Regions from separate parts of the Homo sapiens genome. Here region 2 is linked to region 1. The links come from fine-mapping of genetic effects on gene expression. A gene starts in region 1. The other region holds a variant in brackets. All regions are shown on one strand. Distances are between the middles of the regions.

What was found. PIP is the estimated chance that this variant, and not a neighbour inherited with it, causes the effect. A credible set is the group of variants that fine-mapping cannot tell apart.
Region 2: its variant is the best candidate, but not a certain one, in a credible set for the expression of CYP4F11 in gastroesophageal junction (GTEx, PIP 0.52).

The regions. Positions count from the first base shown.
Region 1 is chr19:15,932,005-15,936,260 of GRCh38, forward strand. CYP4F11 (cytochrome P450 family 4 subfamily F member 11) reads right to left here and starts at 2,525. Exons shown (of 12, transcript NM_021187.4): 1 at 2,207-2,525. The coding sequence starts at 2,404.
Region 2 is chr19:15,882,012-15,886,267 of GRCh38, forward strand. CYP4F2 (cytochrome P450 family 4 subfamily F member 2) reads right to left here. Exons shown (of 13, transcript NM_001082.5): 8 at 4,231-4,256; 9 at 3,913-4,042. Among named protein-coding and RNA genes, the nearest start is that of CYP4F2, 14 kb to the right of the region's middle. The variant A/G (reference allele first, on the strand shown) is at 1,909.

The DNA of each region.
Region 1 (4,256 bases):
GAGAGGAATGAGTGAGTGAGGAGAAGAATGAGTGAGTGAGGAGAGGAATGAGTGAGTGAGGAGAAGAATGAGTGAGTGAGGAGAGGAATGAGTGAGTGAGGAGAAGAATGAGTGAGTGAGGAGAGGAATGAGTGAGTGAGGAGAAGAATGAGTGAGTGAGGAGAGGAATGAGTGAGTGAGGAGAGGAATGAGTGAGCGAGGAGAGGAATGAGTGAGCGAGGAGAGGAATGAGTGAGCGGGGAGAGGAATGAGTGAGTGGGGAGAGGAATGAGTGAGTGAGGAGAGGAATGAGTGAGCGAGGAGAGGAATGAGTGAGCGAGGAGAGGAATGAGTGAGCGAGGAGAGGAATGAGTGAGCGGGGAGAGGAATGAGTGAGCGGGGAGAGGAATGAGTGAGTGAGGAGAGGAATGAGTGAGCGAGGAGAGGAATGAGTGAGCGGGGAGAGGAATGAGTGAGCGGGGAGAGGAATGAGTGAGTGAGGAGAGGAATGAGTGAGTGAGGAGAGGAATGAGTGAGTGAGGAGAAGAATGAGTGAGTGAGGAGAAGAATGAGTGAGTGAGGAGAGGAATGAGTGAGTGAGGAGAGGAATGAGTGAGTGAGGAGAGGAATGAGTGAGTGAGGAGAGGAATGAGTGAGTGAGGAGAGGAATGAGTGAGTGAGGAGAGGAATGAGTGAGTGAGGAGAGGAATGAGTGAGTGAGGAGAGGAATGAGTGAGTGAGGAGAGGAATGAGTGAGTGAGGAGAGGAATGAGTGAGTGAGGAGAGGAATGAGTGAGTGAGGAGAGGAATGAGTGAGTGAGGAGAGGAATGAGTGAGTGAGGAGAGGAATGAGTGAGTGAGGAGAGGAATGAGTGAGTGAGGAGAGGAATGAGTGAGTGAGGAGAGGAATGAGTGAGTGAGGAGAGGAATGAGTGAGTGAGGAGAGGAATGAGTGAGTGAGGAGAAGAATGAGTGAGTGAGGAGAGGAATGAGTGAGTGAGGAGAGGAATGAGTGAGTGAGGAGAGGAATGAGTGAGTGAGGAGAGGAATGAGTGAGTGAGGAGAGGAATGAGTGAGTGAGGAGAGGAATGAGTGAGTGAGGAGAAGAATGAGTGAGTGAGGAGAGGAATGAGTGAGCGAGGAGAGGAATGAGTGAGCGGGGAGAGGAATGAGTGAGTGGGGAGAGGAATGAGTGAGTGAGGAGAGGAATGAGTGAGTGAGGAGAGGAATGAGTGAGTGAGGAGAGGAATGAGTGAGCGGGGAGAGGAATGAGTGAGCGAGGAGAGGAATGAGTGAGTGAGGAGAGGAATGAGTGAGTGAGGAGAGGAATGAGTGAGTGAGGAGAAGAATGAGTGAGTGAGGAGAAGAATGAGTGAGTGAGGAGAGGAATGAGTGAGTGAGGAGAGGAATGAGTGAGTGAGGAGAGGAATGAGTGAGTGAGGAGAAGAATGAGTGAGTGAGGAGAGGAATGAGTGAGTGAGGAGAAGAATGAGTGAGTGAGGAGAGGAATGAGTGAGTGAGGAGAAGAATGAGTGAGTGAGGAGAGGAATGAGTGAGTGAGGAGAAGAATGAGTGAGTGAGGAGAGGAATGAGTGAGTGAGGAGAAGAATGAGTGAGTGAGGAGAAGAATGAGTGAGTGAGGAGAGGAATGAGTGAGTGAGGAGAAGAATGAGTGAGTGAGGAGAGGAATGAGTGAGTGAGGAGAAGAATGAGTGAGTGAGGAGAAGAATGAGTGAGTGAGGAGAGGAATGAGTGAGTGAGGAGAAGAATGAGTGAGTGAGGAGAGGAATGAGTGAGTGAGCAGAGGAATGAGTGAGTGAGGAGAAGAATGAGTGAGTGAGGAGAAGAATGAGTGAGTGAGGAGAGGAATGAGTGAGTGAGCAGAGGAATGAGTGAGCGAGAAGAGGAATGAGTGAGTGGGCAGAGGAATGAGTGAGCGGGGAGAGGAATGAGTGAGCGGGGAGAGGAATGAGTGAGCGGGGAGAGGAATGAGTGAGCGGGGAGAGGAATGAGTGAGTGGGCAGAGGAATGAGTGAGTGGGCAGAGGAATGAGTGAGCGGGGAGAGGAATGAGTGAGTGGGCAGAGGAATGAGTGAGCTGCCTCCCTCTCTTCTCTGTGTTCCCACACCCCAGCCACCCTCAAAACCCAGCTCCCTGAGCCCCATTCCTGCCCCTCAGGAACTCCATGCATCCTGAGACCCCAGACCCGTCCTGCTGACAAACTCACCAGGCCCTGGTGTCCCCAAAACCAGTTCTGTTTCGGGGGTTGAGGAAAACACTGGAGGCGGCGGCAGTTGTCATAGAAGGTGTAGGTCCAGGCCAGGACGCGGGCCAGGAGCCAGGAGCCTCCAACCAGCAGCAGAAGCAGCCACGGGGATGCTGCCACGGGCCCGAGGCCCAGCCAGGACAGGCTCAGCTGCGGCATCCTGCAGGGCAGACGGGATGGAGGGTGGGATCCTGAGGCCCAGGGAAGGGCCCAGGAAGCTCCAAGGACAGTGGAAAGGGGCAAGGATGGGCAGTGCTGGAGGCAGATCAGGGAAGGCTCTGAGATGGGTAAACAAGAGCTGAGATCTAAAGTCCAGAAATGCCCAATGAAAACCAGCAGCCAAGTGGCCTCCAGTTACACAGAAAGGGAAAGAGAGAGAGAGGCTGATTAGAATCCAAAAAGGCCCAGCCTGAATCACTGGGAGGTTGCCAGGGGTCCAGTTACCAGGAAATCACCAGTCTCCCAGGCCAGCAGCCTTGACCCACCCCAACCTTGGGCAGTCCCCTCCCCATCCCAGGCCAGGACCCTCCAGCCCTGCCACTGCCAGCCTGGCTCCTATCAGAAGCAGCTTGTCCCACATACCCTCCTCTCCCCCTCTGCTAGGAGGTCTTTGCCTCTGGCCCCTGATTTCCGGAAGGCTGTGGGAGGCGAGGCTGGGCTGGGCTGGTCGAGCCAATCCCCATGGACTGGGTGTGTCTTCCAAGCCTGGGCAACCAACCAAAACCTGGCGTAGGGCCAGCTGGGTGCAGAGGAGCCAGCTCAGGGTGACACAGCATGGGCACAGGATCCGCAGGTCTCAACATCTCACACCTGAGTGGGAGGGGATCTTGAGGAAGAGTCAAAGGTGACTCTGAGCCCCAAAGTTTACAGCCACCTTGCCCTTCCAAGGCAAGAGTGTGGCAGATAAAGTCATGAACTTGAGAGTTCAGGTGGCAAGAGAGTGGGGCCAGGCCAACCATTGTGCCAGATCATGTTCTGAGCTCCTCTCCACATGTGGTCCAGGAGTTCATCATGCACCATTTCTCAGTGCAGACTTAGGAGATTCAGAGACAGAAGCTCCTGGCCTCTGGCTTCACAGTCTGGCAGGAGTTCAAGTCCTGCCTCCAGGCAACCCAGGGCCTGGGTCGAGACATGACTGACAGGAGTAGGAACAAACTATCTAACTGTGCTGGGGATTACCCGGTCAGATTTTAGAGATAAAGAGCCCCGCTGGAGGAGAATACCTGGAGGCTAGGTTCAGCATAGGAGGACAGAGAGGGGAGATGGGAGGTAAGGCTGAGAGGGGCCATGAGTGGATGGGGCCAGGGACAGGAGGGCAGAGATGGGGGACCCTGAGTGGAGTCCTTATTCTGCCCTCCCCTTGCCCTAACTGTGGGTAGTGAGCCCCTCCTGGACTCAGGCTTCCCATCTGGGAAATGGGATGTCAGATAAGGCCTTAGAGGGGGACAGAGGAGGGATCACAGGAAAATGGGCCTTAGATGGGGACAGATGAAAGATTCTGAGGAGGGAGTGAAGGGAAGGGGCTGGCAGCTAGCACTTTAGCTGCTGTGTGTCAGTCTCTGCTCTTTGCAAAAGACAATATGCAAAGTTCTTTTACTGTGTACTGGACTCTAAATAAAGCACACCTACCATGTGCCAGGTACTCTGTATACATGTTGTGTACTGTGTGCCAAGTGCTCTATGAAAAGTGTGTCCACTGTGTGCTGGGCGCTCTACAGAAAATCTTGCTTCTTTGTTCTCGGTCCTCTATATAAAGTGAAATTTGTGCGGAGTAACTTATGTAAAGTGTACCTACTCTGCACCTGCTGCTCTATATAAAACACACCTACTGTGTGTCAGATGTTCTATGTAGAGCATGTTTACTACGTGCCTGGTGATCTATGTCAAGTGCACCTACTGTGTGTCAAGTGCTCTACATAAAGCGTGCCTACTCTGGGTGCTGGGTACTCTTCATAAACTGTGACTCCATGTGTCCGGTACTCTACATAAAGCACACCTACTGTATGCCAGA
Region 2 (4,256 bases), 50 kb before region 1:
AGGGCGGCAGATCACAAGGTCAGGAGTTCAAGACCAGCCTGTCCAATATGGTGAAACCCCGTCTCTAATAAAAATACAAAAAAATTAGCCAAGCGTGGTTGCGGGAGCCTGTAATCCCAGCTACTCAGGAGGCTGAGGCAGGAGAATCACTTGAACCTGGGAGGCAGAGGTCGCAGTAAGCTGAGATCGTGCCACTGCACTCCAGCCTGGGTGACAGAGCGAGACTCCATCTCAAAAATGAAAAAAAAAAGAAAGAAAGAAAAGAAAAGAAATAGAAGCAGAATGATGGTTACCAGAGGCCAGGGCTGAGGGAGGGATAGAGAAGGGTGAGATGTTGGTCAAAGGATAGAAGCTTCAGTTAGACAAGAGGAATAGTTTTTGAGATCTACTGCACAGCATGGTGATTTAGTGAACAATGTATTAATTGAAATTGCTAAGAGAGTAAATTTCAAATGTTCTCAACATAAAAATGATAAATATATGAAGTGATGGATTTGTTCATTACCTTGATTTAATAATTTCAGGTTGTATACATACATCATAACATCACATTGTACCTCTAATATATATATGTTCTCAACATAAAAATGATAAATATATGAAGTGATGGATTTGTTCATTACCTTGATTTAATAATTTCAGGTTGTATACATACATCATAACATCACATTGTACCTCTAATATATATAATTAAAATTTATCAATGAAAGAACAATTTAAAAACAAACTCATTTTTGAAAACTCGTATTTTAAGAAAAATAGATCTCAGAGATAATGTCCAGAACTGCGTCTATTTTGTATAGTTTTCTTTACAAAGAAAAACACAGTATGTGTTCATATAAATAAAAATCACAGTGTGAATTCATATAAATGTGGGCATTGGGATAGCCATTTTCTGGAAGAATACACAGAAAACTGTTGACCATAGTCACTGCTAAGGTGGAGCTTAATAAGGAAGCTCATTTTTATCATAAAATTTTTTGGACCCTTTCTTTTAACCACATCCATAATTTTGCTTGAAATCTGGATTTTATACTCCAGGACATGGGTCCAGGCAAAGATTTTCTGTGTTAAGACCTCAAAAGCACAGGCAATAGACAAATGAGATTACATCAAGGTAAAAAGCTTCTGCACAGCAAAGGAAACAGTCAACAAAGTGAAGAATCAACTTACAGAATGGCAGAAAATATTCTCAAATTACTCATCTGACAAGCGATTAATAACCAGAATATATTATATAAGGAGCTCAAATAACTCAATAGGGGAAAAAGAACTCAAATCATCTTATTTAAAAATGGTCAAAAGATCTGAATAGACATTTCTTAAAATAAGACATACAAATGGCCAACAGATAGATGGAAAAATGCTCAATGTCACTAATCATCAGAGAAATGCAAATCAAAACCACAATGAGATATCATCTCATCCCAGTTAAAATGGCTTTTATCAAAAAGACAGGCAACGATAGACACTGGTGAGGATATGGAGAAAGGGGAACTCTCACACACTGTTGGCAGGAATATAAATTAGCGCAGCCACTGCAGAGAACAGCACAGAGGTTCCTCAAGAAACTAAAAGTAGAACTAACATATAACCCAGAAATTCCACTACTGAAAAGAAAGAGAAGAAATTTCTATCCCAAAGAAAGAAAATAAAACTGTTGAAGAGATATCTATACTTCCGTATTTATTGCAGCACTATTCAAAACAGCCAAAATATGGAATCAACCTAAGTGCCCATCAACTGAATGGATAAAGAAAATGTGGCGGCCGGGTGCGGTGGCTCATGCCTGTAATCCCAGCACTTTGGGAGGCCGAGGCAGGCAGATCATGAGGTCAGGAGTTCGAGACCAGCCTGGCCAATATGGTGAAACCCCAGCCCTATTAAAAATACAAAAATTAGCCAGGC[A/G]TGGTGGTGTGCACCCATAGTCCCAGCTGCTTGGGAGGCTGAGGCAGAAGAATAGCTTGAACCCGGGAGGCAGAGGTTGCAGTGAGCCAAGATCGTGCCACCGCACTTCAGCCTGGGCGACAGAACAAGACTCTGTCTCAAAGAAAGAAAGAAAGGAAAGAAGAAAGAGAGAAAGAGAGAGAGGGAGGGAGGGAGGAAGGAAGGAAGGAAGAAAGGAAATGTGGCATGTATACACAATGGAATACTATGCACCATTAAAAACACTGGAATTTTGTCATTTGTGGCAACATGGATGGAACTGGAGGTCACTGTGGTAAGTAAATAAGCCAAAAAGAGAAAGACAAATATCGCATGTTCTCACTCACATGTGGGAGCTGAAAAAGTGGATCTCATGAAAGTAGAAGGTAGATTGGTAGAAGGGAGGGAGGGGTGAGGAGAAGTTGATTAACGGGCATAAATAAGAGGTTTGATAGGAGAAATAAAACCTAGCACTTGATAGATCAGTGGGTTCACTATAGTTTACGATATGTACTGTATATTCCTAAATAGTTAGCTTATGTTAGTTATGTTTCTAGCATAAAGAAAAGACTAAATATTTCAGGCGACAGATATCCCAAGTACACTGATTTGATCTTTACCAGTTATATGAATGTATTAGATTATCACATGTATTTCAAATCTATGTGCATCTATTTATGCAGCAATAAAAAATTGTTTGTTAAAAATGCAGAAAAATTATTGGTTTTAAAAGCAGAAAAATGTTTCTCCTCCTCACTGGACTGCTGTGCTGGGCAAAGGTGTGGACGAGAGGACACTGAATCCAAGACATCCGTCCATTCCAATGCTTCCTCTCCTTCCTCCAGCCCCTGGCCTGGCTCTGGTCTCAGAATGTCCCCACTGTGCCTTCATTCTACAGCTGGTCCTCTCCAGTACGCCCTCCACACTAGCCCTAGAAAGATCTTCCTGGTACCCAGATGTGACCTGTCCCTACACTGCTCAAACACTTCCCATGGCTCCCTATTGCCATTGGGCTAAAACTGAAGCCATTAACATTTTCCCCAAGGCTTCCACAGCCAGCCCCTGCTACCATCTCCGGTTTTATCATCTCATTACAACTCAGTCTCTCCCTCTCTCTCCCCTTCTCCTCCTTTCTGTCCTGACCCTGCTCTCTCTCTCTCTCCTTCTCTCTCTCTCCCTCGCTCTCCTCTCTCTCTTCCTCCCTCTCTCTTCCTCCCCCAAAGACCCCAGGCAGTCTTCTTGACCTAGAGCACTGCCCCCCAACTGTACCCAATTATCTACTGATCATTATTTAGGCTCTCAACTGAGACACTTTCTATACCCCCTAGTCCTGCTTCTCTTACTGTAAATCCCATCTCTGCCCATGTGGGCTGGGAGTGTCCTGCCCAGGGACAGCTCCACCACCAGGCTGGGAGCACCTGGAAAACAGATCCCTGGGTTGGTTCCTTCCCAGGTCTCCAGAGCACAGAAAGATGCTGTGCACAGATGTGGGGGTGAAAATGCAGTGTGGGAGTGTTTGCTGAATAAGGATGGGACGGATGAACAGTGCAAGTGTTCCGGACAAGAATGGATGAATTTTACCCCTAGGTCTCCCTTATAAAACCCTGGACTCGACTGGAGAGTAGGAATTAGGGAACAGAAGAGCAAACATTCAAGAAGTGAAGATGTTCAAAAAAAATGATATTTCTGGGAGGAAAGGAAGAGAGTGGAGGGGAAGTTCATTTGCTGAACACGTCTAAGTGGCGTTATCTGTCCTCACATATCATCACCAACTCTCTCAGAAGCCCAGGTCTTTCTGTCCTAAGGGCCTATAACCTTTCCCCAGACAGTCAGGATGGGTACTAAGTCCTGCCTGTGGTCCTCTGCTCCTATTCCCACTAGGCAATAGTGGCAGAATCAACAAAAACAGCTTTTCCTCCCCTCCCCACCTGGGGAGCAGAGCCAATGAGAAGGTCTCAGGAAGAGGCCACAAGCACCTGCACTCACCATTCAATCTCTTTAGGCTCACGGTCCTTCAGAAGTTCTTGCACCTCCTGCCGGCAGCGCTCCTGGTATTCTGGGTGCTTTGCAAGGTGGTACAGGACCCAGGAGAGACCACTGGCCGTGGTGTCATGGCCTGGGGGGCAGCAAGGCAGGCTTGGGTCTCTGGGCTGCTTCAGCACCCGAAGGTAGACAGCACCCATGCATTGAGGGCCTCAGGGAGGATGGGGGAAGGGGGATGGGAAGGTTGTGGGGGTCTACCCACCCTGTTCCTGGAAGGGAGAGATCCCGGTCCCCTCTCTAGCCCCACACTGGGGCCCTCACCCTCAAACATAAAGGTGTCAGCTTCT